4 separate regions of the Homo sapiens genome follow, and all the other regions are reported to be linked to region 1. Evidence: microRNA targets listed by miRTarBase, many of them from high-throughput screens and not tested one by one. Region 1 holds a microRNA gene; each other region holds the end of a gene's coding sequence.
The links. Region 1 holds the annotated microRNA hsa-miR-3160-5p (GGCUUUCUAGUCUCAGCUCUCC, at 5,669-5,690, shown strand). A microRNA usually pairs through its seed, bases 2 to 8, with sites in the 3' UTR of a target mRNA and lowers its output. Matches are read on the target gene's strand: a 7mer-m8 pairs with bases 2 to 8, a 7mer-A1 pairs with bases 2 to 7 and ends in A, and an 8mer does both.

Region 2: the mRNA of SNX5 is a reported target of hsa-miR-3160-5p. Seed matches in the 3' UTR shown: 7mer-m8 at 6,900-6,906.
Region 3: the mRNA of HOOK1 is a reported target of hsa-miR-3160-5p. Seed matches in the 3' UTR shown: 7mer-A1 at 6,683-6,689.
Region 4: the mRNA of MAK16 is a reported target of hsa-miR-3160-5p. Seed matches in the 3' UTR shown: 7mer-m8 at 6,191-6,197.

Annotation. Positions count from the first base shown.
Region 1 is chr11:46,449,459-46,457,545 of GRCh38, reverse strand. MIR3160-1 (microRNA 3160-1) reads left to right here and starts at 5,657; the gene lies at 5,657-5,741. The region is part of intron 11 of AMBRA1 (autophagy and beclin 1 regulator 1); the gene reads left to right. MIR3160-2 (microRNA 3160-2) reads right to left here and starts at 5,739; the gene lies at 5,659-5,739.
Region 2 is chr20:17,935,415-17,943,501 of GRCh38, forward strand. SNX5 (sorting nexin 5) reads right to left here. Exons shown (of 13, transcript NM_014426.4): 12 at 7,696-7,781; 13 at 6,186-6,993. The coding sequence ends at 6,943. Among named protein-coding and RNA genes, the nearest start is that of SNORD17, 23 kb to the right of the region's middle. RefSeq lists enhancers at 3,298-3,891, 3,524-3,653, 4,894-4,983, 5,014-5,103, 5,079-5,670.
Region 3 is chr1:59,872,318-59,880,404 of GRCh38, reverse strand. It overlaps HOOK1 (hook microtubule tethering protein 1), which reads right to left. Exons shown (of 22, transcript NM_015888.6): 22 at 4,083-7,610. The coding sequence ends at 7,440. Among named protein-coding and RNA genes, the nearest start is that of CYP2J2, 50 kb to the left of the region's middle.
Region 4 is chr8:33,496,914-33,505,000 of GRCh38, reverse strand. It overlaps MAK16 (MAK16 homolog), which reads right to left. Exons shown (of 10, transcript NM_032509.4): 9 at 7,704-7,769; 10 at 3,739-6,569. The coding sequence ends at 6,372. TTI2 (TELO2 interacting protein 2) reads left to right here. Exons shown (of 8, transcript NM_001102401.4): 5 at 1,066-1,253; 6 at 1,429-1,572; 7 at 4,511-4,673; 8 at 5,724-6,279. The coding sequence ends at 5,828. Among named protein-coding and RNA genes, the nearest start is that of TTI2, 12 kb to the left of the region's middle.

The sequences.
Region 1 (8,087 bases):
GCCTCAGTTCCATTACAGTAACCAAGTCAGCCAGATGCTTTATCTTGATGCCACAAATCTCAAAATTAACATTTTCCTTGAACCTAGTTGTGGAACACCCTCAAGATTGTCAACCGTTAAATTTTTCCCCCCTTCCAAGGTGAATGTGAAGTTGGACTGAGTGTTGTATTTAGGAGTCCATTTTCCGATCTAACCTCACCTTTGACCACCAAGTTCTGTGGGATTTGTTAGCCCTTGGAGCTTAGCCTGTCTGTCGCTGGGTAATGGTAATGTGGCAGTGATTGCAGTGGACTGACACCATGCTGTCCTTAGCCTGAATGAAGCAGGCTTTGAATTAGAGGGTTCAGCAGGCTTGGGAGCTCTTCACCTTTCTTCGCTGGGAGCAGGCCTGTCCTCTTTCTTGCATGTTGGCCCCAACTGACTCAGCTGTAATGCTGTACCCTGAAATGTACAGGTGCTGATTTGACAGGAGCTTTTCACCCTTTAGAAGCTGGGCCCCCTAATGTGAATGTAGGCTCATAGAGCAATAATTCACGTGTAGGTGGCCTGTAAGGAAAGTTTTAACAAAAGAGTTGGTTAAGAAGCTGATTTATTTTCTTGCTTTAACTCTCTTGTCATGTGCTGAGTGGGGGCGGAAGAGGAGGGGAGGGTGGGGACTGGTGCTGCTGAAAGCATTTATCTTCATTTCTGCCATCTCCCAGTGTTTATTACCCTGTGATCGACAGATGAGGAAAGCTGCCAGTCAAACCCACGTTCAGCACATTTCCATTTCCCTTCATTGCAGATTTTAGGCTTTTGAAATCTGCATCCTCTTTGCAGCAATAAAGGTCGTTTCCCTCCTGCTGCTGACGAGCCAAAGACCCTCTGGTCCAATTCCACTCGCTTGTGCTTCCACCAAACAATAAAAGCTGCGGGAGTCTCAGCAATTTAAGACAAGTGATTGGTGAGAGCCATTTAGTGTTTGAGTCAGTCGCTCTCTTTTTCTTTCTCTCTCACCTTTTTCTCCCTCAGTCCTTTTCCCTACCTTCACCCCTCTCTTTGCCCATTCTTATGCTGCTGAGGCACCCCCTTAAGCAGCTGCATTGCATAATGATGAGAGGCTGACAGTTTTCCTGGCTTCACCTAGGGACCCACCTAAGCCAGTGTCCTCTGTTGCTGGGATTAAGTATTGGCAGTGTCAGGTTGTGGGGAATGTATTAGTGGAGGTAGAGTAATTCTTAATACTCTTATCCACCTGCAAGTCTTTTGTCAGAGGTAGAGGCTTTGAGGAAATCCCTGCCTGGTGGGAGCGAATGCTAGATGTTTGTGTTTGGGGTTTTTTTTTCCCCCATTTTTCCTTAACACTACGTTTTTTGGAATACTGTTCCTAGTAATCTTTCAGTAGCATGTGTTCTTGTGAGCTTATTTGTTTTTGTCTTAAATAATGTTTGTGGGTGGAATAAAGGTAATGATACTCATTTCTTTGAAAATGGATGTTCTGCTTTCATAATTACTTGTCCCAATTACATCATTAGTGTAAGTGCAGGTAATTGCTTCATTAGGACATATGTATTGAAGGAGGGAGGGCAAGTCTATAGCATGGTGATAAAAACAGGCCTCACCCTCTTTCTCTACCCACACAGGAGCATCTCAGCTTGACTTCAGGGATCCAGGAGCCACCAGCCACCCTGTAAACAGCCCAGATTAATCCTGGGTTTCAGTGTCATGGGAGGAAGGAAGGATGACCTAGTAAAGAGCAACTTACTTACTTTCTTTGGGGTGGTAACTCATTGCTGAACTCTGGATGGCACTGGTGCGTTCAAGGCAATGTGATTGAATCATTGGGGATTATTACTGAATTAGGGAGCAAAGTATTCTTATGGAAGCTGTATGCTTTCTGAGGCTCACCAGGCCGGATGGCATGAGCCCTATCCTCTGTTTGAGTTATTTGACTGGCTTTTTAAGGGAGTCTCCATTTTCATTCTGGCCATGACAGATCAAGAGGTTATATTCTCCCATCAGACCTTACTACTTTCCTGTAGAGTTGAATATTATTCTGATTTTATGCCATGTCTGTGAATGTCTTTGTGTGCACGCTACCTAGTTATGCATCTCCTCTTTCAAAGCATGTTAAAAGATACCAATAGTAAATGATTCTGCTTATATGAGGCTAACTAAAGTAGTCAAATTCATAGAAAGTAGAATGGTGGTGACCAGGGACTGGGGAGAGAGGGAAAGAGGAATTGTTTAATGAGTAGAGCTTGAGATTTGTTACATACATACAGTTCTACTGAACTGTACACTTAAATATGGTTAAGATGGTAAACTTTTATGTTGTATTCTTTTTAGCACAATTAAAAAAAAAGAAAAAGAAAACCTATGCTGGGTGCAGTGGCTTATGCCCATAATCCCAGCAATTTGGGAGGCCAAGGCAGGAGAATCATTTGAGGCCAGAAGTTTAAGACCAGCCTGGGTAAATACTGAGATCCCATATCTACAAAAACAAATTTTTTTTTAATTAGCTGGGTGTGGGGTGGCGTACACCTGTGGTCCCAGCTACTTGGGAGGCTCAGTTAGGAGAATCACTTGAGCCCAGAAGGTTGAGGCTGCAGTAAGATGTGGTCATGCCACTGCACTCCAACCTGGGCATCACAGCAAGAACCCATCTCCATCTCAAAAAAAAAAAAAAAAAAGCTAATACCAGATTCCTTGTTCACTTACTACTTATTCCAGATAAGAAGGCTCTATCTACTGCTGTGTCTTTAATGAATATCAGGTTAATTTCTCTTTCTTTCTTTTTTTATTTTTATTTTTTTGAGATGGAGTCTCGCTCTGTCACCCAGGCTGGAGTGCAGTGGCGTGATCTCGGCTCGCTGCAAGCTCCGCCTTCCGGGCTCACACCATTCTCCTGCCTCAGCCTCCCAAGTAGCTGGGACTGCAGGCGCCCGCCACCTCGCCCGGAGAATTTTTTTTTTTTTTTTTTTTTTGTATTTTTAGTGGAGATGGGGTTTCACCGTGTTAGCCAGGATGGTCTCGATCTCCTGACCTCGTGATCCACCTGCCTTGGCCTCCCAAAGTGCTGGGATTACAGGCGTGAGCCACCGCACCTGGCCAATTTCTCTTTCTTTTTTGACCTGTTATAAACCTTACTGTGCTGTGGCCATGTAATCCTGGTTTGAATTGTTGTTTTGAGAAAATTTTTTTATGAAGCTGTGATACATAGGAATATTTCACAGTTTGCCAGGCATGATGGCTCACGCCTGTAATCTCAGCACTTTGAGAGGCCAAGGTAGGAGGATCACTTGAGCCCAGGAGTTTGAGATCAGCTAGGGCAACACAGCAAGACCCCGTCTCTAAAAATTAAAAATTAAAAAAAAATTTCATAGCTATTTCTTTTCCTTTCCTCATACACTGTATTCCAGGCCTTGCTACTTTTCTTGTTGAACTCTCAGACTATCATTGCTATATTGGCCTGATCCAGTGCCTTTGGCCTCAGTAGAGTCTTTCTCAGGTCTGCCCCTAAAGTTCATGATTTGCATGTGGACTAATATTATCCTTCTTTGGAGCCTTTAGGAGTTTATTGGACAATAAAATTATGTTTATTTGGGGGCCTAATTCCTACAAATAAGACACGTAACCATTGAAGTCTGTATTTAGAAAATATTTACCCTTTAATTCATGTTAAATATATTGCAAACTTGTTTAATGATTAATCTCAGCATCAGATTAAATGACTGGTAGAGTAGTTATTAAACTGCCTAAACATGATAGACCAAGTGCCTTACTCAGAACATTTCCTATGCCAGAATTATAGACAGCCACGTGGTGCTTTTTTGGGATTTTATTTTTGTGGTTTGCAGAAAATGACGTTCCCTAATACTCTTCATATCTTTTAGCCTCAGGAAACAGTGAAGACTCTATTTCAGCTATAGATAATACACTCAGAATTAGTCTTTGAAGCCCTACTTTTTCTTTACAATGGAAATAATTCTATTTATCTTAAGTCCTTTTATGATTGCTGGTTTTCCACACAGTATATTTTCTATAAAATAAAAACTACTATTTAATTCTCATATGAACCTATGGTTCAGTTATAAACATATGATAGAATATTATTCAGTCATAAAAAGGAATGAAGCCAGGCAGAGTGGCTCGTGCCTGTAATCCCAGCTACTAGGGATGCTGAGGTGGGTGGATTGCTTGAGCCCAGTAGTTCAAGGCTGCAGTGAGCTGTGATTGCACCACTACATTCCAGCCTGGGTGATAGAATGAGACCTTGTCTCTTTGGGGAAGAAAAAAAAAAAAGTGAAGTACTGAAACATGCAATAAGCGTGGATAAACTTTGAAAATGTTATGCTGAGTGAAAGAAGCCAGACACAGAAGGCCACCTACCATATGATTTCATTACATGAAATGTCCAGGAGAAGCAATTAGTGATTGCCTAGGGCTAGGGCAGGAGTGGGACAGAGTAAAAGGGAGTGACTGTTAATGGGTACGGTATTTAGGGGAGATGAAAATGCCTGAAATTAGACAGTAATGATGGTGGTTGTAAAATTTATTTGCTGATGGTTACATAACTGTGCGGATATGCTAATAACCTTGAATTGTATACTTTAAAATAGGTGAATTGTAAGTTATATCTCAGTAAAGCTATAATTTTAAACAGACAGACACACATATATATTTGGGCATTTTTCTCAATGTCAGAATCATAAATGAGAACTCAGAGAAACTTGGGACACTTCTAAGCATGGAAGAAGTCTTCTTATTTGTCATCAGGGACTTTTTCCAGGTACCAGGCTATAGGATACATTGACTGTGATTTCAGATTAGATTAAATGATGATTAGAGTGAGTGTGACTGAGTACTTAGTTATACCCCTTTCTTAGGACAGATTTTAAGACTGCATTTGAATGAAGCTTTCTGGAAAGAAGATTAAGTGTTCTTCCTAGGATGCCATGCAGATATACTCAGAAAGGGAAGATGGTTCCCTTGCTCTGAGAATTATTTTTTGTAAACAGAAGCCAGTGTATTTATTTACAGAGAGCTCAGATAATCCATAAGAGAAAAGTTAAAGTAACCAAAGCTAGGTAGGGTAGCATGTGCCTGTTGTCCTAGTTACTGGGAAGTCTGAGGCAGGAGGATCACTTAAGGGCCAGGAGTTCAAGGCAAGCCGGGCAACATAGTGAGGCCCCATCTAAAAAACAAACAACAACAACAACAACAACAAAAAACCTTAAAATAACAAAGGTTTTTAAAATGTACATAAGACACTAGTAGACCATCTAAAAGATACACAGTGAGCTGGTAAACAAATGAAAAGATGTTCACCAATACTCTTAATTATTAAGGAAATGAAATGGATCCAAAAAATAGGATTACCATTTTTTACTTCACAAATTGATAGACATTTATTTGAATAGTGTTTTCTTAATAACAGCATTATTGAGATATGATTCACCTACCATACAGGCCACCTATTTAAAGTATACATTTCAATGGCTTTTAGTATATAGAGTTGTGCAGTCATCACCTCTATCTAGATATTTCATATCATCTTTATCACCTCCTAAAAAACCCCATACACATCAGCAGTCACTTCCCCTTTCCCTCTCTCACATCCCTCCAGCCCAAAGCAACTGTCAATCTGTTTGAAAAGTTGATAAGTTTTTCAGTTGGACCTGCCCTGGGCTTTCTAGTCTCAGCTCTCCTCCAGCTCAGCTGGTCAGGAGAGCTGAGACTAGAAAGCCCAGGGCAGGTTCATATAACAGCCAAGCAGAAAGATAGTAATTGTGTCTCCAGGATGATGAGTGTTTACATCCCCAACCCCATTCTTATTTCATCTTCCCAGCAGCACACAGTCAGAGATGGCCATTCTGAATTAGAAAGTCTCAAGTTAAACAGATTTTTCAGGACTGAAATGTAATTTAATCATTTCCTTCTTTGCAACTTGCCCTTTTTTACCTTCCCCGAATTAGCTTTTCTGATAGATTTGCTAATGATTCCCATTGTTCAGTATCTTCACTGAACTGTTGAATCATACTTTTCATTTCCCTTCTCCTAGAACAAATCTTAGAGAGAAGCTGTGAAGCTGTTTTGAAAAAAGATTCCTAATTCTTTCCAAGCAACAGAAGAGAAGAGTTTCTGAGAGAAGCAAAGGTAGAGAGATGCACAGAGGCTATTAGGCTTGGCAGAGCTCACCTATCATGTGACTGTGATGATTATTATGATTTTATCCCTAGACACATTCTGGGAGCTCTGGCCTACAAGTTGAAGACCTGACTCTGGAATGAGACTTGGCAGCTTAGTTTTTGCCATTGTTGTTGGCTGATAGTTAGCCAGGATCACTGGATTTAAGCTTCTTTTCCTCCTTGTTTTGTCTGTCATCAGAATAATCTTTATTTCTTCTTTTGCTCTAAGCCTCAATGAAAGGAATTTCTGTGGTTATATGATAGATATGAACTACCATGACTAGTATTGTCCTTATGAACAGCTGCTGTTCCCACTGTCTCCTAGAATGTGAATGAAAGTCGTGGCCCCTCCCTCTTTTTTAGGTTTATTAAAAGTTGAGTGGAAAATACAGACAGTTCCCATATACTCCCTCCCCTTACACCCACAGGCTTCCCCACTGTCCACACCAGTGTGGTACATTTGCTGCAGCTGATGAACCAACGTAGACACATCATTATCACTCAAAGTATGCGTTTACATTAGGGTTCATGCTTGGTGTTGTAAATTTCACTGGTTTTGGCAAATGTATGTGCCATGTATCCAACATTGTAGTAACATAGAAAATAACTTTACTGCTTAAAAAATCTCCTTGTGGCTGTACATGGTGGCTCATGCCTATAATCCCAACACTTTGGGAGGCCAAGGCAGGTGGATCTCTTGAGTTCAGGAGTTGGAGACAAGGCTGGGCAACATGGTGAAACCCCATCTCTACAAAAAATACAAAAAAAATCAGCTGGTCATGGTGGCACACACCTGTAGCCCCAGCTACTCGGGAGGCTGAGGTGGGAGGATCATCTGAGCCCAGAAAATTGAGGCTTCCGTGAGCCGTGATTGCACCACTGCACTCCAGCCTGGGCAATGGAGTGAGACCCTCTCTCAAGAAAAGAAAAAAAAAAAAAATCTTGTGCTCACCTGTTCGTCTCTGCCTCCCTGCAAACCAACCCCTACCAACTACCCATCATTTTTCTGTCTCTATAACTTTTCCTTTTCCAGAATCTCATACAGTTGGAATCCTATAGTATGTAGCCTTTGACTTCTTTCATTTAGTAACATGCACTTAAGGTTCCTCCATGTCTTTTTGTGGATTGATAGCTCATTTCTTTTAGCATGAATAATATTCCATTGTATGGATGTGCCACAGTTTATCCATTCATCTCTTAAATGAAGAACATCTTGGTTGCTTCCAAGTTTTGACAATTATGAATAAATAAATAAAGCTGCTATAAATATCCATGTGTAGGTGTTTGTGTGGACATTAGTTGTTTTTTTTTTTTTTTTTGAGACAGTCTCGCTCTGTTGCCCAGGCTGGAGTGCAGTGGCGTGATCTCGACTCACTGCAAGCTCCACCTACTGTGTTCAAGCGATTCTCCTGCTTCAGCCTCCTGAATAGCTGGGATTACAGATATGCGCCACCACGCCCCGCTAATTTTTGTATTTTTAGTAGAGATGGGATTTCACTATGTTGGTCAGGCTGGTCTTAAACTCCTGACCTCATGATCCACCTGCCTTGGCCTCCCAAAGTGCTGGGATTACAGGCGTGAGCCACTGCGCCCGGCCTATATTAAGTCTTGAAGTTGGGTTGTGTCAATCCTCCAATTTTGTGTTTTCCTTCCATATTGTGTTGGCTATTCTGGGTCTTTTGCCCTTTCATATAAACTTTAGAATCAGATTGTTAATATTCACAAAATAATTCAGGATTTTGATTGGGATTGTGTTGAATCTGTAGATCCAGCTGAGAAGAATTGACATTGTAACAGTACTGAGCCTTCCTATTCATGAACATGGAATATCTCGCTAATTTAGTTTTATCCTTTGTGATGTCTTTCATCAGTTTTGTAGCTTTCCTCCTATAGACCTTGTACATATTTTGTTAGATT
Region 2 (8,087 bases), not on the chromosome of region 1:
ACTCGTCTCTGTTACATAACATCTGGGGCTTCAGCTAGGAAGATGTGAGTGTCTTGCGGGGGCAACTGTCTAATACAGTAGCCCCTAGGCTCATGTGACTATTTAAACAGAAATTAATTAAAATTAAGCAAAATAAAAACTTAGCTTCCTCAATTGCACCAGCCACATTCCAGGTGCTTAATAGAGAAGTGCCAGACTTGGCTGGGCGCAGTGGCTCACGCCTGCAATCCCAGCACTTTGGGAGGCCGAGGTGAGAGGAACCCTTGAGCTCAGGAGTTCGAGACCAGCCTGGGCAATACAGGTAGACCCTGTCTCTGTAAAAAATAAAAAATTAAAATAATTTTTACAAAAGAGAGAATTGCCATACTTGGCAGATAAAAATACAGGACACCCAGTGAAATCCGAATTTTAAATAATCAACAAATTTTTTTTTAGAATAACTATGTTCCAAATATTGCATGGTATGTATTACACTATATTATTTGTTGTATGGAATTCAAATTTGGCAGTGTTCCATGTTTTATCTAAATCCCAGCTAACATGTGGCTAACGACCACTAGGCTGGACGGCACAGATACCGAACATTCCCGTCACACAGAAAGTCCTTATGAACACTGCTGCTCTGGAGAGGTCTTCACTCACCTGTCTGCTTCCTGGGCTGGGAGGACGTGAAGACGGGGCTTCACTGGAATGTGGGACCTCTGTATCTGGCGTGGGTCCTCACGGATGGCAACCACATTCCAAGAGAGTGGCCCAAGAGCAAGGCTTCCTCCGCTCTGTACCTGGAGGTTACCCGCCAGCGTCACTTCTGTCCTGTTCTGGTGGGTTACACATGTGCCATTCCAGCCAACCCAGGTTCAAGAGGAGGGGGATCCGATTCCTTCTGATGGGAAAGCTGCAAGATCACATTACAGAAGAGTATACGGGACTGGAAATATTGTTGGAAAATACAACGTTGGAGTTGGGGACATCAAATCACGTAGGGCTTTGTAGTTGTTGGAAGGACTGGGGCTTTGAGTCAAACAGGGAGTCATGAAGGGTATTTGCAGAGTAGGGTCACAATCTGACTCATGTGCGAAGAAGATTCCTTTGGCTGTTGCAAGTGAATAAAACGTAGGGGGTGAAGGCAGAGTCTGGGAGTTTCCTTAGGTTGTACCTAGCCCTAAACTAAACTGAAATCAGACCCCAGCCTAGTACTTGGTGGTGGAGTTGGCATGACGATCCCAGCTTCTGGACCCTATTTCCCTCTTCCCTGCAACAAGGACCCTTGCAAGTAGCCCCTCCCCTCACACCAGCTTCACCTCTTGCCCCCAATTCTGAGGCGAGTCACATCTGGTCAGTTTCACTCCCCCGCCCCCTCCTATGGCGACAAGTGCTTTAACAGACAGTGCAAAAGGGGTCAAAAGCACTGCAGACATGAACCAGACTTTAGAAAAACACATAGCGCGAGCCCTGTTGGGATTCGCAGCAGGCGTTTCCAATGTTTTTCTCGAGACTGCAGGCTTGGGATTTCCTGTCTTCTGAGGCATTCGCTGAGCAGGCCAAGATCAGCTTCATAGGAAGGCAGGAATGGGGCTTCCTACATTGCTGTCTGCAGGCTCTCTCTGGCTCCTTTCCTCTCCTCCCCTTAGGGTCTTTTTTGTGTATTCTTTCTCCTACTTCTGACACTTTTTCTGCCCCCAGATAAATGTCCAGCCACCTGCCTCCCAACAGGACTGAATCACGGGATCATGATACAATCAACAAATCCAAGGAGCTGAGAGGCCCCGGGAGCTGCAGCTGCATCCAGCTGGAATCTTGAAGGCTGGCTCTAGCTACGGGTTTCCACCCTCATGCGAAGTGTGCCAACTGCTTCGCAGAAACCTCCTAACTTCAGCAGGGCAGAGCAATGGGAAGCTATGTCAAGAATTGCTATGGGTATCCGGCCTGATTTAGGGGTAACTGATACACAGCCTAACACCGCACAGCACCGTTCTTATTAACTGTTCCTTGACTTTGCCCTGTCTTAGGTTGACCGTCCAGAGCATGGGTCATCCCCTCCCTGTCTTTTTGCAATGTAGAGAGGATGGGGTAAACAACAAACACATGACCTCCATTCCCTCTCCAAACCCCATCAGAACAACTGGAAAGGATCTGCAATGTAACAGTTAAAAAGTAAGGCCGTTCATAAACAGTTCCTGAAACCCAAGCAGCTGGCCAGTCTCCTGCTCCATTTCCTTGCAGCAAGTTTCAGTGGAAACTCTATACCCCAAACCCCCAAATCCCTACCCTTTGACTGATGCGAAAAATCCCCCCAAACAGGCCTTTGTTCCTTTAGCTGAGGACACACCAAATGTATTAATGAACGTGGATAAGAGCTGGAAGGCAACTATCAGAAGTGGCTGTGGACTAGGATTACAGGCTGTTATTTTCCTGGCCTGAATATTACAGGTCCCACAACTTAAGAAGCTTTAAAGGAGGTTTGTAAAGCATGTATTAAAAAATAAGGCAGGCCCAGTTGGGCAGTGGCTCATGCCTGTAATCCCGTTTTGGGAGGCTGAGATGGGAGGACTGTTTGAGGCCAGGAGTTCAAGACCACCCAGGGCAATATAACAAGACCCGTCTCTACAAAGATTTTTTTAAAAAAATTACTCAGGCATGGTGGCGTGTGCCTGTAATCCCAGTTACTTGGGAGGCTGAGGTGGGAGGATGGCTTCAGCCCAGGAGCTGGAGGCTGTCATGAGCCATGACCGCACCACTGCACTCCAGCCTGGGCAACAGTGAGACCCTGTCTCAGAAACAACCAACCAACCAAAAAAAAGAAAGGCTCAATTAAAAATTAAAATCCTCCCAAACAGCTACCTAAACCATTCACAACTTCTAGCTAATGAAGACTTTGGTTGGGTGGGGTGGTTGCTGAAGGCAGGGAAGAGGCTGGGAGGCTCAGGGCCTCTGTGCTTGTCTGCAGGGGGCCCTCACCTCTTCCTCATGGGAAGCAGGCCGTGGAAGGACAAAGATGCAAAAGAGCTGTTTTGGGGCCTCAGGAAAACTCCTCCATGGATCTCCACGGAGAGAGAGAACCAACAGCAGAAAACCTCCAGAATCCAACCCCAATGCTGGCATCCTGAATCGTTTTTTGTAAACAATTCCTATTCGGATAGGAAAAAAATCTAGAAACATTTAATAACTTATTCTTGAGATGTGGTATTTTACTGTTATTTTGTTTTACAAGATGTGGGGACTTCATTAAATCCCTACATGTATTAAAGTTAGAAATAAACATTAAAACCAAAAAAGTCAATGGTTTTGAATGGTGACAAACCAAACCTCCAATAAGAAATCACTGTGGGCAGCTCACCCACGCAAGGGGCACCTTGTGTATGTGCGAGGAGTGGATGGGGAAGGGCGTCCCCTGGACCTTGCAGACCCAGCTGTGTCTAAAGGACATAACTGATCACTGCCCAAATGTTGTCCACCACCCCCAACTTCCTTCCAGACACATCACATGGCCTGGCTGTGAACCCCCATCAACATCACAACTGTTTTGACACCAGGCTCAGATGGGGAGTTCTCGAACAGCATGGCCTCAGCAATGGAGGTTGTGTCTTGGGTAACCAGAAACCTGAAGCCCGCAGGAATCCTGGAGGGGACTGCTGGTCTGGGAAAACACCATTCAGAACTACTTAACTCTCAAGTAGCCTGACATTTCTCTTCCTGCTACCTTAGCTATAAGCTGATAATCTGAGCAGCTCTGCGGGGATACCAGGCTCCTGCTCAGCTGTGGGTGGGCAGGTGGCTGTGCTGGGTCGCCCCTGCCGCCTACAGGCAGAAAGCGGATGGTGCAAGGTTTCCTTCCAAACGGAAATCGCCCTTCACAGAGCTGAGCCTGGGAATTACCACAAAGAAACCTCACAAAGAAAAGGTGCGCAAGGCAAATGTTCAGAAAACAGACCCCTAAACCCTGAGATGGCACAAGTGAATGTGTTGGGTGGTGAACTGGCCAAATGCTTGTGCTCTGTCACCACAAACGACCCCAGTGGTCTGACATGACCTCAACGGCTTCACAGACCAGGGGTGTGCTTTCCTTCCTCGTGACAATCTCCTAATTTTGCTTTTCAGAGTGGGGGAGGGCGGGGAGAGGGGAGGTGGATGGCAGTTGTCCCTGTTGTCTAGTCTGGAGTACAGTGGTGTGATTTTAACTTACTACAGCCTTGAACTCCTGGGCACAAGCAGTCCTCCCACCACCTCAGCCCTCCAGGTGTATGCCACCACTGTAGGTTAGCATTTTTTGTAGACACGGTTGCGCTGTTTCTCAGGCTGGATCCTAGCTTTTAATGAAATCGTATGACATGTGAACTGTGCAGTTTTGCGTGTGCCACGAGGCAACTTTCTCAGCCGTGCCTTGGGCAAGTCACAGCCTTTTTGGCCTGGATGCCTTAAGGCAGCCCATCTGAAACCACTTCCCATTCCCATTTCTAGAAACCTTCAAGGGTTCCCTATGAATTGTGCACCCACATGGGTTTTCCTGGAGGATCACTAGTTCTCAGAACCATACAAGCACACAGCAAAAGCCTCTCCACACATCACCCTGAAGTGACCCAAATTCCCATTTCTCAATGTGGGACCTATGCTCTCCTGCACTCCAGCAAGATAGCTGTGGATTCCCACCTGATGCTGTTCCTCCTGCTGCCAAGTGCCTGCCTGCCTTTCCAGGTCTCAGCACACCACACAGGTCGCAGTCAGCATCTAAACCCATCCCCCCACCCCAGACCACTATGAATGCACCCTCACATACAGGTAAAGGTAGCAACTCACTAGGTGACTGACAGAAGGGGAAAGGTGACTACATCCCTGACCCAGAGTGCCTCAAATTTCCTAAGTGACTGTCAGGTGCAATTTAATGAAAAGCCTTGGAACAAATACAGCAGGTAAAACATCTACAATCATACCATCCATGAAGGCTGTATTAGAGATTGCTGGCATAAAACTAATTTGAGGGGCCTCTGAAGTGCTGACTCCAGCTCACAGATCAGTCAGCTGAGAGAGGCAGCCTAGATCACTTGGTGAGCAGCAGACCCAGCACTCAAGATTCATGCCTCTGCTGTCCATTTGACAAGGTTTAGTCTCAAGAAAATGCACCAAGGCCCCGAGGCCAACAGCCAGAGCTCCACCAATCAGGGCTGATCACACTGGTGCTCAAGCACTGCGGCCCAGGAACCTGACTGCAGGAGTGCTGGCTCTACACTAACAGAATGCTGGGCGTGTGTGGGTGGCTGCTGTGGACATTATGGGGGAGATGGGTAGGAAGGACAGATTTGGTTAGGAGCCCAGACTGAAGTTACAACTGCCAAGTTTAAATTCACTCATTTTGTGCACCGTTTCCCAAGTATGTACTGTGAAGGTAGAAGGCACTGTGGCCGCCTGTAAATAGCTGGGGAGGCAAGACACGAAGACCAGATAAATGTTAAGAAACATGCTCCCTGTATGTATTGAAATCAGTTCTGCAACCCTCATACCAGTTGGCTGTAACAGATGCTAAATGTGGTGGGTAAAATGTTTTTAGTCTCATGGTCTTACCATGAATTACTTATTAGAAAGGTAAAGGAGATTACCACCCTAAGTGCTCAGTCATCAACAAAGGAATAGACACACAACTCCTGAAGACATGTCATTGGCACCAGGGAGTGGTTTCGTGGAAGACAATTTTTCCATGGACAAGGTGGGGTGTGGAAAGGGATGGCTTCCAGATGAAACCATTCCACATCAGATCATCAGGCATTTGATTCTCCTAAGGAGCGCACAACCTAGACCTGTTGCATGCCCAGTTCACAATACTGGGTTTGCACTCCTATGAGAATCTAATGCTGCTGCTAATCTGACAGGAGGCGAACCTCAGGCGGCAATGCTGGCTCACCTCTTCCTAACAAGCCATGGACCTGAGACTGGGGACCACTGCCCTATGGTAAAGGCCCTGGCCAAAATGCAAACCTCCATCAGGTCAGGAGCAAACAGACAAACCCACATTTAGAGACCATCTAAAAAAGGCCTGGAGTACTTAAGAATGTCAAGACTAGGACAAATTTCCCCTGACCGCCCCCAGGACTCTGGGCAGAACCTGAAAACCCTGTAACCACAGCCAAACCCTAGCACCACCTGCACTCCTGGGACACACTCTGGTTGTAGTTTCCACGAAAACAGGCCGTACATTAGTAGCACGATTATTTTATTATATGCTTTATAAAAAAACAAACACCCAAAGACATACAACACACCGCCCTCACCCCCCAGCGGCCATTAGGGAGGGGGCTTATACTTTTCCTAATGTAGATCTGGCCATCTTATAAAGCAGACCACATTATTTGTTTCCATATATACCTGTAGATATTTCTCTCCCCTCAAATATTTATATCTCGACTAAAAAAAGGAGGTGCAAAGAGTATATAAAGATAAATGAGATTTTCTTGCTGTTGTTATAGTACAAACACCAGATGACTACCAGTGGAGTAACAGGGCAAAACAAAAACACAAACCCCACCTTCAGTGAGGAATGGAAGGTCTGTTACCGACCTCAAGTAGCTGAATCACCTGCTGTAACTGGCACCTCCCTGACAATCATGGGTTTGTAGGGACATGGGCCAGGTGATGGCTTCTACTTGTTTCCAGAAGGCTAATGTGTCCTACACCCTTTCTTAGTAACTAAAGACGAACTACGGGAGAACCCAGTATTTGGATTCTGCCCAGAGGTATTAAATGCACAAGGAAAAATTAGTTATGTCCAAGTAGCAAGCAATAATATTTTTAAACCAACATGGTTAAATGTTAAGATTTGTAGAAATCAAAATATTTATTCACATAATTTTAAACTAAAGTTGAAGCTAATATATCTTCCGTGGTAATGATTTAAGTGCAAGTGATGCTTGGCTTTCTTTCACATTCATTTCTTTTCTTCTGAGTGAAGGCATATCAGTTATTCTTGAACAAGTCAATACAGCTCTGCAAAAGGGAGACATTGTTCTGTGGGGAAAAAAGGCAAGGCAGACCAGTGAATTATTAAAACTTGCCATATACCTGGAATGACTCAAGTACACCAACACGGCTTTTCACGGGAGGTTTAAAGTCAGCCAGAGCAAGCTGGCCCTTCTCTTCATCAAATCCCAGGTGAACTGCAACGTACCACGCATCCCCATTTCATGTTTCAGCTCCTCTCCCTCAGTGGGTAAGGCTACCAGCCAAAGAGCCGACGTTCACTCCAGCACCTCTGCCCTCACCTGCTTGCTCCTAAATGTGATCCTGCTTACTGTAACTTCTTAAGACACTATCAGTGCGTTGTTCCATGAAGGCAAGGGCCTTGGAAAGATTGAATAAAAGTTGCTAGAAATTAGGGCTGGGAGCTTTAGCTCACACCTGTAATCCCAGCACTTTGGGAGGCCAAGGCAGGTGGATCACCTGAGGTCAGGGGTTCAAGTCCAGCCTGGCCAAAATGGTGAAACCCCATCTCTATTAAAAAAAAAAAAAAAAAGTTGCTAAAAATTAGTCATGGGTGACATTATAAACAAGACTACAAATAAACAATGAGTGGCTCCCATCAACTAAGTACTACAGACGATTAATACCACAAGGCCACCCCAACTGCCTGATGACAATGGGTTAGTAAACTGGGAAATAACTTGGAAAAAACCATAAAAGATGTTGGCTTCATCTGTAGAAAACACTTACCCTGGCATGTTTTATTTCCAGTTCAGACATTTCAATTAGATTCTTTCTAAATGCTGCCACTCTCTTCCGTTTGAAATTTATCAGTTCTACAGGAAGAAAAAATGTTTATGAAACCAAGAAAAACTAAACAATTTTCATGTTCACTTTAACTACCAAATGGCATTCTTACAAATGGTCTCCAATGCTTTCAGGCACCAGCATTATTTCCTCACATTTGTATTATCTCTGTGACTGGGACACATCAGACATCTATTAACTGTGGTGATACAGCTATCACTGTCTTTAAGTGGAAAACATCACTGAATCACCAAGCATCGTGAGTGGGAGAGCAGCAGCTTATGACTTGGAGAACACGTTGATGAGCAGCCTCACTCTCACCCTCTAGGTACCAG
Region 3 (8,087 bases), not on the chromosome of region 1:
ACTGTCCCCCTCTGAGGTGCCTCTCCTTGTGGTGCTCCTTCCTGTGGGATGATTATGTATAACCACCTTCATGAATTCAGGAATGGCCGTGTGATTGGCTTTGATCAATAAAATGAGAGCAAAAGTTCCACGAGCCACTTCTAAGTGCTTGAAAGCTGGCTAGTATTGCAACATGTTTCCTCTCTGCCATGAGACCACCAGTGTTCTAGATAAGAGTCTGTCCAGTGTGACAAAGACAGGAAGCAGAGTCACAGCTTATTCAAGATGAACGTATGATGTCAGAAATAAACCTATTTTGTTATAAACTAAACTAAAATTTCAAAATTACTACAGCATAACTTACCCTATGCTGTCAGATACACCTGCATTGTATTTCTTGTGAAAACATGAGATCAAAGTGACATGATAATCATCAATTACAGTAGTAATGCTGTATGGTTATTTCAGAGAAGCATCCAGTTATGCTATTATACAATTTGGAGAACTTATTTCTAGACCTTTTTTTTCCCCAGGCAATTTGATCTTTTCCTCACTGTGTCCACAAAACAAGATATTCTCCCTGCTGACTACAGGATAAATTACAGATTCTTCAGTATGGCTGCTATGTTGTAAAACCCCAGGCTGCCATTCACTTGTAGTCTAGGTGAATGGTGCCCTCTGGCGTTGGATCACGTAGAGTAAGTTTGTCCACAAGCGGCCCAGGATGGCTTTGAATGCGGCCCAACACAAATTAGACAACTTTCTTGAAACATGAGATTCTTTCTTTCTTTCTTTCTTTTTTTTTTTTTTTTTTTTTTTTTTTAGCTCATCAGCTATCGTTGTTAGTATTAGTGTATTTTATGTGTGGCCAAAGACAATTTTTCTTCTTCCAACATGGCCTGGGGAAGTCAAAAGATTGAAAAGATTGGACACCCCTGATGTAGGGCCTGCATAGCCATATGTAAGGGCATGCTCCTTAGGTGGACATATGGTAATTTTTATGATGTGAAATCTATTCACCTTTTGAATTACATCTCTTAGTACTTCTCCTGCCAAAGTACTGAACTATTACTTCCCTAAATAGGCCAGATCCTTCATCATGTCTTTACAGAAGCTAGTTTTTCTGCAAGAAATGTTTAATTATACCTGGCAGACTCCTATTCATCCTGTAAAGGCCAGCCTAAACGTTAGCTCTCCAGTGACATTTTTCTTGACTCTTGGTTAGTTGCTCCTTCCTCCATTCCCTGAGAATTTAATTTAAAAGGTTTTATTTCCTATTTCCATATAATCTCCCAATTAAAATGAGCTTTTCAGAGGTGACTGTGTCTTGTTCACACACATTCAGTACCTGTTTCATGCATAGCAGATGCTCAGGAAATGTTTGTTGGACACACAGTGGAGGTGAGGGGTAGGGGAGAGCAAGCAGCCAAGTGACATTAATGCTGCAGTGTGCCATAAATTTTCCGTAGCCATGCAGCAAGCCATGAACCTCTATATTTCTTAATTTCACATTCTGGAAAAGGTGGGCTTTAAATACTGGTTACTGAGGTCACTCCTACTTTCAAAAATCTGACTTGTGGCGAGAACTTCTGAAATGGTAACTTAAGGAGCTCCAAAAATCCATTCCATAAAAGCACTGAGAACGTGAGCAAAAATAATCAAAATCAACATTTTCAGAATGCTGAAAATTAAAGTCTCAAAACAACCTGAGCATTTGTTTAAAAAAAGAAGAGCTGCTCTCAGTAAAAACAGGGAGCTCTGTTTTAACTTGCCCTATGCCGGTTCTCCTCTCCCCAGCTCTCAAGTATCCTTAAAAGCAACAGTCTCACAATTATGGTAGCTGTGAATACCCGTGATCAAGCAGCCACTGGAGGGAGCAGAATGGGTTTGGAGCACCCCAAAGGCCCCATTCCCAGAAAGTTGTCATTATATGACCTCTCTGGCAGTTCCCTGAAAAGCCCCATTCTCAGAACTTGTCTTTGTTTTACCTTACTAAACGCTGATTCTGTGCAAACCACACTACAGGACATTTGTTAAAAAAAAAAAATCAGTGACAATTGTGCAACATTACAGTAACCCAAGGTAGCAATACAAGTTGGAATTAAAACAGAGGATTAAAAGGATAAACTGGAAATAGAGATGCCCACCGGGGCTTCTAACACTCTAACATATGCCTAGGAATCTAGAAGACCATGCACATGTGAGGGCTACATGCATACCCAGGCAAAGACCTGGAAAGACTCGAATCTCTCATCTCTGGCTGACTGTGAGGGTCTGTGTAAGCAAGAAACTAAGGTTACAATAGAACTGTAAACTACCTGCTGGAGTGTTGAAGGTATAATGCAAAACACACGCAGAGCCCTTTGGGAAAGGCTGAGAGACTTATTTCAAAACATTCAAGGAAATCGCTGTCCAAAATTAGCTGGATACTTTGCTTAAAAAGCACAGAATTCAGTGGCTGCACATGATGAAGAATGGAATTTTTACAGAATTAGTTCAAGTCTCTAAACAAAAGGCAATAACAGTAACAATAATACACTGTGGGGCGGGGTCTGATTTCCAGAGTTTCCACATATTACTTATAATGCCAAATTTCCAATAAAAAATTATGAATCATGTGAAGAAACAGAAAACAATGGCTCATAGACAGGATAAAAAGAAGTTACTGGAAACAGTCCCTGAAGAAGCCCAGGCATTGGATTTACTAGACAAAAGCTTTAAGTATGTTCTATGAGCCTAAGAATTAATTATTGGATAAAGAATTAAGTTAAATATGAAAATGATTTTCCACTGAACAGAAAATCACAATAAGGAGTCAGAAATAGAAAACAGCAACTAACTAGAAATTCTAGATTTGAAAAGTACAATAACTGAAACAAAAAATTCACTAGAGGAACTCAGCAGCACATTTGAGCTGGCAGAGGAAGAACCAATACACTTGAAGATAAATCAATGAGATGATCTATTCTGAGGAGCAGAATCAAGAGAGAATGAAGAAAAATGGGCAGAGCCTTGGAGACATGTGGGACACCAAGTAAAAACGGGTGCATAATGAGAGTACCAGAGAAAAGGATAGAAAGAGGAAGAAAGTATGTTTCAAGAAATAATAGTCAAAAATTTCCCAAGTTTAATGAAAAGCATTAGTCTGCAGATCCAAACTCAACAAACTGCAAATAGAATAAATTTGAAGAAGTCAACACCTAGATCCACAACTCATCATCTTTTTGATAGTCAAGCTGTCAAAAGCCAAAGACAATGAGAGAAGCTTGAAAGTTCCATATCCCCTGGAACTTCAGAAGAATGTGAATTGCGTACATTCAAGCTAGATATCTAGAACAAAGCTGTACCCCACCTAGTTATATTGGAATCTGGGAAGCACAGTTTTGGTTTTCTCTTTTTTTCCTGGATAATAATGTAACAAGCTAAAATATGGGATTCCATCACTAAAGTTAAGAGGGGTAGAATGGATATTCAGGGATAAATAGCAGTCTCTAAAATTATATTACCCAGGAATGTCTTGTTTTTTTTGAGACAGAGTCTTACTCTATCACCCAGGCTGGAGTGCAGTGGCACAATCTCAGCTCACTGCAACCTCTGCCTCCCGGTTCAGGCGACTCTTGTGCCTCCGCCTCCCAAGTAGCTGGGACTACAGGCGCCTGCCACTGCACCTGGCTAATTTTTGTATTTTTAGTAGAGACGGGGTTTTGCCGTGTTGGCAAGGCTGTTCTCAAACTCCTGACCTCAAGTGACCTGCCTGCCTCGGCCTCCCAAAGTGCTGGAATTACAGGCATAGCCACCACGCCCGGCCCCAGAAATGTTTTGATTCCGTGTTAATGCAAGATGTCTAGGTTCCAGAGGTGAAAATGGAGACATAAAAAGACATATTCCCAAATCATTTAATATATCTTTTCATTCCCCAAAAAATTAAAAGGAAAAACAAAATTAGAAGAATGCAATTACTTTTTCTTTACAAACCTACATATTTTCACTCCTCTATTTAATGCAGCAAATAAACATGCATTTATGCCCACTAAAAACCCATCAAAATCAACAGACACAGAAGCATAAAGTTTATTTACTTAAATCATTTCACAACTATTATATTGATAATGGACAATCATTTATTTAAAATAATATCCTAAATACTTACAAAAATAAATCAAATATTGGTTTTATTTTTCAAGTGTCAAAGTCTTTGCCATAGAAAATAGAAAGGACCTTTTATAAGCTAAACATTACATTTGTGCTACATCATTTAATAACTCCACACTCTTTTATGGTTTGTGCTTTACAAATTTCCAAACTACTTCTTCACAATGTACAGGTGCACAATAAAAATGTATGCATACGTTCACATACACACATTTTTACATAGGAATGTTTCTCATTAAATACACATTTAGTGAACTTAACACAGACACTACTGTGGCCTAAAGGCCATCCCCAAGCCCCAGGGTCAGAAGTGCCCTAGAAAGAAATAGGTATAGATGTGGAAACATTATCTAACATTCAAATTAGCACTCTAATTATCAGAAATGATGACATAATGAGGAATACTCACTTTAATATTTCTAAAAAAGATGTCATTAATCTATACTAAATCATTTGACAGCCTTATTCATCGAAAAAATAAACTTCAAATTTTCCTCAATACATAAGTTAATCTCAACATAGACATCACTGCCATACGTACACACCCTTAACCTTAAAAAGAAAAGGAATTTTAATCTTAGAGCAAGTGCTTAACATTGAAGATCATTTGCAAATTGGTCTGTGGTTTTACTTTATAATCACTAGGACATTTAATTCCTTATCAAATAGACAAATGCTGAATATCTCTTCATTGGTATATGTACTCAAGCCTCCCTTATAACACAGATGTGTATAAATCATGGTTCAAGATGAAATGTTTATAATGCTTTACCACCCACAGGGTGTCAACTCACTACATTAACCAGATGTGGAAAAGAATCTCACTTCTGATCAGTTCCTGAATTTCTGTATGATTAATCACAATAATACAGAACTTTAAATTACATTAGTCTTATATAAATACTTACATATCAAACGTTTTGAATCCTACTTATCAACTAGAAAAGTGATAAATCAGAAATTTCCTTTTTCTCTATTAAGAAAAATGAATCTAGCCTTATGTCCTTATTCAGAAATTGCATGATTTAGAAGTTCCAAGTATAATGATCTGATCTGTGAAAACACTAATTTATTAAAGTTAATGTTTTACAATAAATTCCTTTAAAACGGAGTTTGAAGGGCTTGTAAAATCTCAATCATAAGCAAGTAGAAACACCAAAGGGGCAGATGTCTTCGCTGACTAAAATATGTCAAAATGCCATAATATTTAGAAAATGTTAAATACCATGCTAAAATATTTTCAAAGGCTTATTTTATTTTACCAGAAGTCACAGGCAAGCAGACACTACAAGAATATATGAAAATGAAACTCAACAATATAACTGTATCAAAATCTAAGAGGTAGTCAACAGAAGTAACCCTGATAGAACAACATATCCTGACAGGTGCTCCCTAATCTCGGAGATGCAAATGCAGTACGAAATTCTTGTATTTTCAGTAAAAAGTTACCAGGCAAGAATCTAAAAACCAGGTATCTAAAAAATAATAATACTGTAAATGGAACAATACTCACACTGTATTTGCAAAGAAAGTCTATGAATAAAATTTAGACCACAGCTCTACAGCATGCAAGCCAAATCTGGCCTACCGCCTGTCTTTGTAAATAAAGTTTTACTGAAATACAACTATGCCCATTTTGTTTATATATTGTGTATGGCTGCTTTAACTCTATAATGGCAGAGTTGAGTACTTGCAACAAAGATCATGTAGGCCACAAAGCCTAAGACATTTACTAAAGTATTTACTCTTTGTCCATTCACAGAAAGTTTGCAGACCCCTGGTCTAAACACACTGCTGATAGGTATGTATGTTGAACAGCACTGAAATGATTAACTATGGTTGTCACAGCATAAGGTATTCAACTGTATGGAATGTAAGATGCTAATTATGTCACAATTCAGTTCCTTTTTATATCTGAAATAGTCCTAACATTTTTCTTCTTTTTGTGGTCTAACATCTAATATCAAATAGTATTTCCAAGTTACTATAAAAAGATTATGGTACTATCCAATAGAACTTTCTGCAATGATGGAAATATTCTATAGCTGCCCTGTCCAATATGGTACCCACTAGCCACATGTGGCTATTGAGCATCTGAAATGTGGCTGGTGCAACCAAGAGACTGAGTTTATAATTAATTAAATTTAAATTGTCATATATGGCTCATGGCTATGATATACGACAGCACATATTTAACACAACTAAAATTCAAAAGTGCTAACTTTTAAAAATGACCCCAAAAGTTCAAAAGTAACACCTCTGAAAATAAGAGCTTTGGGCAGAAACGAACTGAATACCACAAACTGAGCCCAAGATAAACTCCTTAATAAGTAAACAAAATCAAACTGATCCCACCTTGTTTCATCACTGCAACATCCCTTTTCAATGAAGCAAAATTATTATATGATACAATTTTTCAGCAGAAGCTAAATACAACTTTATGCTTAAAAGCAATAACTGAAATCTTCATTAATTACCTTAAAAAGTATATAGACATTTCACAAAAAGTATATATATATATATATATATATATATATATATATATATAGCTTGCTTTCCATCAGAAAGTCACCTATTACAAATGTCAGTTTATTTCTTATGCTTAACATTTTAAACATGATGTCCAGAAGCCCTTATTTGCCATAGGTACAAATTAGAACTATGAGATTAGATTTTCAGAATATGCAAAATTTCCAATTAGTCAATTTTATTATTCCAAAGTCATTCCAATTGTCAGATCTTCCAAATGTTGTATCTTCCATGACATGACAAGGTAGAGGTACACATTCAATGGAAGAATTAGGGGACAGAAGTAAAGCCTTGTATATATTAAGTCAAAGAAATCACCCTTGCATAGTTCTCCATGTCCCTGCCTCAAGACTGTTTTCATATAAATCAACAAAAAACAAAAAAAGATTAAACAAATCCAATTAATGTTCTAAGATTAAGTATTACTGAATAGCTATTGAAAATTAATTAAGTTACTAATACAACTGAAAACATTTAACTAAAATATACAAGGCCAATTTGAAATTATAATACTCTCAAAAGACAAATGTTTGTTTGAAATGTGTGTATAACTGCATCTCCAATTATTCAAATGTGCTCCCTCAGAGAGATGGCTAATTCTATAATTTGTTTTTAAAGTCAACTGGCAAAATTAATTTGATGCATGTTGATTTTAAAATACCTGATATCCCGCATCATAAACTCTTTTTCAATCTGGTAGTTAGTTGAAAGGTACAAAATATTTTAAGGACACTTCTATTTTATGTGGTTTTTTTGTTTTGTTTTGTTTTTTTTGCAGTTTAATCAGATGTTGTAGCAGGGACTTTAACAGAGAGATTTCTTCTGGTGTTGGTGATGTGCCGTTGCTGCGCTAAGAAAGACCGCGCAGGAGTGCACGCACCAGTGTCACTGCAGGCACCACCGCCGCTCACAAGTCTAGATTCCATCCCCAGTTTCTGGAATGCTAGACTCTGAAAAAAAAAAACATATATTTTTTATTTAACATGACTAAACAGAGTTTGCCGAGTGCTTCTCACATAAAGACACTTAATCCTTAAAACCAACCTATAAAGCTAAGGCTTTCCTCATTTTTATAGAAAATAAGGGTTCAGAAGCTGATTAATCTATGAAATGGTAATGCTAGTAAGAAGGCACAAAATCCATTTTCTCTATTTAATCACTAAATTTAAAATTATTTAAAACAGTAACTTAAAAGAATGGCCTGGAATTAGACTTAATTATAAAAATTTTTGTGTTTGGGCCATCACCGTACCACCTATGAGCAGACATGTCACAACAGAATGGCTTAGATCAAAGGTTCTTGAAGGGTGGTCCCCGGATTAACAAGATTAGCATCCCTGGGAATTTGTTAAAAATACAAATTTAGGGGCCTTACCCAGACCTACTGAATCAGAAGTTCTGCCAGTGCGTCTAGCAATTTGTGTTTT
Region 4 (8,087 bases), not on the chromosome of region 1:
TCCGCCCGCCTTGGCTTCCCAAGATACTAGGATTACAGGCATAGGCCACTGCACCCAGCCTCTTTTTCTTTTTACAGTATTTTAAATACTGGGTATTGAGAATCCAGATTGTAACAGCCGGAAAGGCTGGGGTTCTTAAGGTGGTAGAGAAAATAAATTTTAGAAAACCAAAACACCAAGAGAAAAACCAAAGGTCCCAGGAAAGTTAAAAGGAAGTACCTGAACCAAGCTTGTCCAAGCCATGGCCTGCATGCATCCCAAGATGGCTTTGCATGCAGCCCAACACAAATCTGTAAACTTTCTTAAAATGTTGTAAGATTTTTTTTGCATTTTTTTTTTAAAGCTCATCAGCTGTCATTAGTGTTAGTGTATTTTATATGTAGCCCAAGACAATTCTTCTTCCACTGTGACCCAGGGAAGCCAAAAGATTGGATACCCCTGGCCTAGGGATAAATCCTAGCACTTTAGGAAGCCAAGGCGAGTGGATCACTTGAGGCCAGGATGGTGAAACTTTGTCTCTACTAAAAAATAGAAAAGTTAGCCAAGTGTGGTGGTGCACACCTGTAGTCCCAACTAGTTAGGTGGCTGAGGCACGAGAATCGCTTGAGCCTGAGAAGCGGAGGTTGCAGTGAGCCAAGATTGCACCACTGTCCTTCAGCCTAGGTGACAGAGTGACTCTGTCTCACAAAAAAAAAAAAAAAAAAAAAAAAATGTGTAAATATCATGTATCACTAAGTCACTTAGACTTAGTGACATAGTAACAGTAGACTTAGATTCCTAAAATCTGGATTAAAGTCCCAGCTCTGCCATTTTTCCGATTTTATAAATTAGCAAAGAATGGTCCTGAGGAGAATGTATTGATTTGAGACTGTCAGATGGAGATTAAGAATGTAAAAAAGTTTGAAAATGTAAAGTAATGTGCAGTTCATATATGATTACTAGTATCTTAGAATTCTCTGGTATGGACCCTAAGGACGGTAGATTAATGAAGTTCTAGAGAAGTCAGTGAGTATTGTAAATGCAAATGGATGAACTATGCACCGTCCTTCCATTCCTTCCTCCTAGGCTGTGCTCCTGTGTCTGCTGGATTTATTCCCCATCCTGGAGAAAACCCTGCACTGGAAAGGAGATGGAGCTCGACCCACCACCCATTGTGATGAGGTCCTGCGGCTGATCCTGACCCACATGGAGCCAGAGCACCGCCTTCTTTTACGCAGGACCTACGCAAGAAACCTGCCGGCTTTCGTGAACAGGTGAGGCCCTGGGCTTTTATTTATTATTATTTTATACAGACAGGATCTTGCTATGTTGCTTGAGCTGCTCTCGAGCTCCTGGCCTCAAGCAATCCTCCCACCTCAGCCTCCCAAAGTACTGGGATTACAGGCATGAGCCACTGCACTGGCGTCATATTTTCTCTTTCATCTTTAGGTTGGGGATCCTAACTGTCCGGCACTTAAAGAGGCTGGAGAGAGTCATCATTGGTTATCTGGAGGTTTATGATGGACCTGAGGAGGAAGCTAGACTGAAGATATTGGAAACCCTAAAACTTCTCATGCAACATACTTGGCCCAGGTAATAGCAGCCTTAAGGTGCAAAACTCAGCCGATTTTCTCTTGAGAACTTGCTTGGATGTATTTAATACATTCAGTACAAAGTATTAAATGTATACTATGTATTTGAATACCTCCCATTTTCACACACCTATAGGATTTTAAACTGAGAAAATGGCATTAGAAAGATAAAATATACTATAGTTACTTGAGGTGCTCATAGTTGACTCTTTTACCAGGTATCAGTTCCAGATTCTGACAGTTAAATCGCTTCTCTTTGAAACTCTAGTATATCTTTTTTGTTTTTTTTTTTTTTTTTTTTGAAATGGAGTCTCACACTGTCGCCCAGGCTGGAGTCCAGTGGCGCGATCTCTGCCCACTGCAACCTCTGCCTCCTGGGTTCAAGTGATTCTCCTACCTCAGTCTCCCAAGTAGCTGGGATTACAGGCGCCCACCGCCAGGCCCGGCTAATTTTTTGTATTTTCAGTAGAGATGGGGTTTCACTATGTTGGCCAGGCTGGTCTTGAACTCCTGACCTTGTAATCCACCCGCCTTGGCCTCCCAAAGTGCTGGGGTTACAGGCGTGAGCCACCATGCCCAGCCTTTTGTTTTTGTTTTTGTTTTTGAGATGGAGTATTGCTCTGTCACCCAGGCCGGAGTGCAATGGCGCGATCTCAGCTCACTGCAACCTCTGCCTCCTGGATTCAAGTGATTCTCCTGCCTTAGCCTCCTGAGTAGCTGGGATTACAGGTGCCCTCCACCATGCCTGGCTAATTTTTAAAAAATTTTTAGTAGAGATGGTGTTTCACCATGTTGGCCAGGCTGGTCTCGAACTCCTGACCTCGTGATTTCCCCTCCTCAGCCTCCTAAAGTGCTGGGATTATAGGCGTGGGCCACTGTGCCTGGCTATATATCTTAAGAATGGTTTAGATTGGTGTTTTGCAGAATCTCCATCTAGGTACTCTTTGATGCCCCACAGGAAAAAAAAAAAAATTCTGTGGTCAAATAGGTTGGGAAACCATACAGGTTGTACCTCTCTCTAGATTTAGAATGCATATTAGAAGATTAAAGGTCATTTAGAAGTGTTGCAATAAAACATTTGCTTAACTTTGTTAATCCTAATGTTCTTTAAATCTAATTGAGAATAGAGTACTTCATAGCACATCATTTAACATCTGCAGAGCAGTGATCAGAATACCAATCTAGAGGCCAGGTGCGGTGGCTCACGCCTGTAATCCCAGCACTTTGGGAGGGCAAGGCTGGTGGATCACCTAAGGTCAGGAGTTCAAGACCAGCCTGGCCAATATGGTGAAACCCCGTCTTTACTAAATATACAAAACTTAGCCGGGCATGGTGGCGCGCACCTGTAGTCCCAGCTACTCAGGAGGCTGAAGCAGTAGAATCACTTGGACCCAGGAGGCAGAGGTTGCAGTGAGGTGCAATGGAACCACTGCACTCCAGACTGGGTGACGGAGCGAGACTCTGTCTCAAAATATAAAAAAAAATAATAAAAATTTAAAAAAAGCATACTAATGTAGGATATACTTGCTTGGAAATCATTCCAACTCTGGCTTGAGGTAGGTGTCAGGAACTGGAACCCAAACTGTGGAGTCAGCAGAAGCATCTCTTGCATAGCTGAAAATTGAATTCAGCCAGAGAATCTAGTGCCCCAACAACATACAGTAGCTATTCTGCACCGTATTCTCTCACTTCCTTATAAATGTGCAAGGAATCCAGAGTAACATTTCCCCATGACAACCTTTCCCTTAGTCATATTGGTAACTAGGTTGCATTTGTTTACTATCTTTCTCCCTACGGAATTATAATCTCCAGGATAACGGAAAACCACATCTATTATATTCTCCCAAAGTATGTTCAGTACCTAGTATTAGGTATACAAATATTCAAAGAATGAATGGACTGGAAGAGAATGAATCAATGGATGAATAAAATCGAATCAGATTGTCAGGTCTTTAAAGAGCAGAGACCAAGATTCCAAGAAGGGAGAGTGAATAAATGTAGGGAGGTAGAAAAGGAATATGTGTGTATGCGTATGAGGGGGTGAAGCATGGGAAATGGAAAACAGAGCCGATTATAAGTTGAATAACGAGGGCTGAGAGGCACCCAAACCATAGGAAAATGAGGAGTATTTAGATAGAGATGAAAACTTTTTTCTCCCAGTCACGCATCTGTCCATAAATATGATTTATTGTACATTTCACATTGTATTTTCACATTGTAAGTTAAATTATTTTCCACCTTTCATTAAAGTTTTTTTAGGGTTTTTTGTTTATTGTGGTAAAAATACATATAAATTTTCCATTTTAAAGTGTACAGTTCAGTGGCATTAAGTACAGTCACAATATTGTGCAGTCACTAGCATTGTCCATTTCTGGAGCTTTACCAAGGCGATGAAAACTTTTAGAAAGGTTAATAGTTACAAGTAAGTAGGCTGGACTTCACTGATGATGAGCTAGGATCTGAAATTAAATGACAGAAAATTCAACTTGACACAGTCCCAGAAGCCAAGCTCATTTCCCTCACTCTAACTTCCAGGCCTAAGATGGCATTAAAGTTAAAGGATTCAGGGCTCTCTCCAAGCATAGTTCAGTTAATAGAGTTGAAAAATAAAAGTATAGGCCCTTGGTTGGGGAGATCCTGGTTTCCCCTTCTCAGCCCATGAAGGAGCTGTTGCTTACAGTAGAACCAAGCTTCTGGAAGGAAGAGAGCAGTGTGGCAGAGGGTGTGTCTGTGTGTATAGGCAGTATGCTAACAGGAGACTTGAGGGTAAGAAATCTAGAGGCTGTCTTTGGTTCTGTTTTTAGGTCTTTTTCATTTAACTTTGACCTAAGTTCCTTAATTTAGGAAATGATAGCTTTCCACTTGACAGTCTTTGAAGTCTCTTCCAATTTTAATATCCAGATTTAGAGTATGAACATAGCTTTTCTTCCTGATTCCAGAGTTTCCTGCAGACTTGTGGTCTTACTGAAGGCCCTCTTGAAACTGATTTGTGATGTAGCAAGGGATCCAAACCTTACACCTGAGTCTGTTAAGAGCGCCCTGCTACAGGAGGCCACAGACTGCCTGATTCTCCTGGACCGCTGTTCTCAAGGACGGGTAAAGGTAAGGCAGACTGAAACTTGGTTTCAGTTGGGCCTCATTATCCTTATGTAATTCCCATGATTGATTATAATTTACTATGTATGTGCCTGACCAAGTCTGGAAATGAACATGGAGGGTTTTAGATCTCCATATGAGCCCTCTAGCCTCAAAAGAGCTTGATCTTTTTTCTTATTCATCTTTTAAAGCTATTCAGAACCATTTAGAACTAAAGGCAGGAGGATCAGCACATGTCACTGGGGCTAAGGACGAGACAGTATGGGCAAAAGCATTATGATCAAAAGTTTGTAAAATTTAAGTTCTGTTCTAGTCTTCTGAATTAAAAAAAAAAAGTAAAAATAATGGGCTATAAGCTCCCAGGAATAATAACATAAATAGAGCATTTCAGATGTTTCCAGTTTTTTAGGGACAACCATCTTTTAGGTAGATGTTTTTCCCTATTCTTAATTTATCTACATGGAAATTCTTCCTTTGGTTTCATATTCCACAAAAGTTAACTTCTCAAAGCCACAGCATATAATAGCTGTGTACTTCTATGTATTTAATAAACTACTGCCTCATTTCTTACCCCTTTTAGAAATCTTTAGTTGAAGATTGAAGGTAGCATGAAAAGAAATTCATGCCATAAGTCACTGGACAATCTACCCAGCAGGAAAAAAAAATTCATATCCTAAAAATATGTAGAGATAGTATGAATTGTTATTTTACCAGTTTATTCAAACTATTTCATCTTAGCTCTTTAATCTTGGGCAGTTTTCAAGCCCTAGATCCAACTGAATTTGCCTTGGCTGGAATTCTGCTGTTTCATGAGCCAGCAGGAGATTTGCAAGTACATTAACACAGTTTTTAAAGTAGCACCTTCAATACATGAGAGCTATATAAATTTAAAAATAATAAAAAACCAACTAATACCTATTCTGCTTAGTGACCTGTCCCTAAGTGTCATCCATTCTTTCCTCCTTTGAATATGATACCAAGGAAGAAGAATCAAGCAAAAGGGGAAAGTAATTAAAAAAAAAAAAATATCAAAGCCTGTTTGGTTTCATGTTTCAGGGTCTCCTGGCCAAAATTCCCCAAAGCTGTGAAGACAGAAAAGTGGTGAACTATATCAGAAAAGTGCAGCAGGTTTCTGAAGGCGCACCCTACAATGGAACTTAAGACTTGTATTACTTTCCCAAGAGGAAAGGATTTTCTTCCCATCCCAATTTGTATGAATGGAGTTATTTAAGAAAAAAAGATATTTTTACACGAAACTTTGTAAGTGAAAGCTGCTTTTTCCTTCCTTCCTTTCCTTTTACCTCCATAAGAATAGGGAAAGTAGAACAAGAAAAAATTGAACTCCTTCCATTTCTAAATAAAGTTTGGGAGAAAAAAGGACACCAAGTAATGTAGCATTTAAAATTTAGAAATATTTACATCCGTCATCTCATCCCAGATTCAAGAACTCATCTGTTAAGTTTCTCGGGCACAAGCTGTTACTTCAACACATATGCTATAAAAACACTCTTGTTCACAACTTAGCTTTCTTCACTCACTCCAGATTTCTTGCCCCACTGACGTGGCATAAATAATAAAAACACAAATATTGTGTTCAGTACAACACAAAAGAGCAAAAACTGGAGGTGTGTATGTGTTTAAGATAAAAAAAAAAAAAAAACAGTTCTGCATGTTCAGTCCTGGGTATAAATGCTGAAAGGGAAATCACGTGGTTTTGGCTTTGGCCACGGGCTCTGTCTCCTGCTCGTATTCTATTTCCACATAGGCTCGTTTTCTCTGCAGTGGTCCTCTCAAGGGCATTTTGCCTTTGTGTTTCGCACTAAGGGCCTTTTCTTCCTCCTCCTCACTGGAGGATTTACCATCCTGATCTTCATCACTGCTGGCATCCAGTTTATCCATATCCTATTACGGGGAGAGAAAAGATAAAGGAAGAGGGAAAACACTAGATTTCTCCAAACTCCCTTCCTTGTCCCCTCAATCTAGAACAGACTAGGGCATTGATTTGTCTATGTCTGTGTTCAGAAATTGTCCCTTTCTTTAATTTTTTTTTTTTTTTTTTTTTGAGACGGGGTCTTGCTCTGTTGCCCAAGCAGGAGTGCAGTGGCATAGTCATGGCTCACTGCAGCCTCAAACTGCTGTAGTCAACAATCCTCCCACCTCAGCTTCCTGAGTAGCTGGGACTACAGGCAACCGCCACCACATCCAGCTGAATTTTAATTTTTTTTTTTTTTTTTTTTGGAGACGGAGTCTCGCTCTGTTGCCCAGGCTGGAGTGTAGTGGTGCGCTCTCAGCTCACTGCAACCTCCATCTCCTAGGTTCAAGCGATTCTTCTGCCTCAGCCTCCCAAGTAGCAGGGATTACAGGCATGCACCACCATACCTAGCTAATTTTTGTATTTTTAGTAGACACGGGGTTTTGCTATGTTGGCCAGGCTGGTCTCGAACTCCTGACCTCATGTGATCCGCCCACCTCGGCCTCCCAAAGTGCTAGGATTATAGGCGTGAGCCACCACGCCTGGTCATGATTTTTAAAAAATTTTAGGCCAGGCCCTGTGACTCATGCCTCTAATCTTAGCACTTTGGGAGACTGAGGCAGGCGGATTACCAGAGGTCTGGAGTTCTAGACCAGCCTGGCCAACATGGTGAAACCCCGTGTCTACTAAAAATACAAAAAATTAGCCGGGTGGAGTGGCACATGCCTGTAATTCCAGCTACTTGGGAGGCTGAAGGAGGAGAATCGCTTGAACCCGGGAGGCTGAGGCTGCGATGAGCCCAGATTGCACTATGGCACTCTAGCCTGAGCTACAGAGCGAAACTTCATCTAAAAAAAAAAATTTTTTTTTTTATTAGAGATGAGGTCTCACTATGTTCTTCAGGCTGGTCTCGAACTCCTGAGCTCAAACAATCCTCCCATTTTGGCCTCCCAAAGTGCTGCAATTATAGGAGTGAACCACGGTGCCTGGCCACCTCCCTGTTTTTGTTTTTTTTTTTTTTTTGCTGCAGGCCAAAGGACAATCTTTTTACCCATAAAGCTCACCTCAAAATCACTTATGTCACTCTCATCTACCTCACCATCTTCGACAAATTCTCTTTTCCCCACATCCTATAAATAAAACATAACTGTTAGGTTCAGAATACATAATGAAGATTCAGATTAGACATCTAAGTAAGTACAAAATAACATAATGAGAACCACAGTCTTTTCACTAGGCAATGAAAATTTAGTTCTTTCTAAATTTAATGCTTCTGAATTTTAAAAATTTTAGGGCTACCAGATCATTCTTATTCTTGATTTAAATTATTAGCAATAAAACATCCTCATTATGGTTAAAAACTACATATAGACAGGAAAGGCTTTATAATTTGTCACCTTGCAGGAACAATTTTAGAAGACCAATAAATTAAGACTAAAATTGTTAAT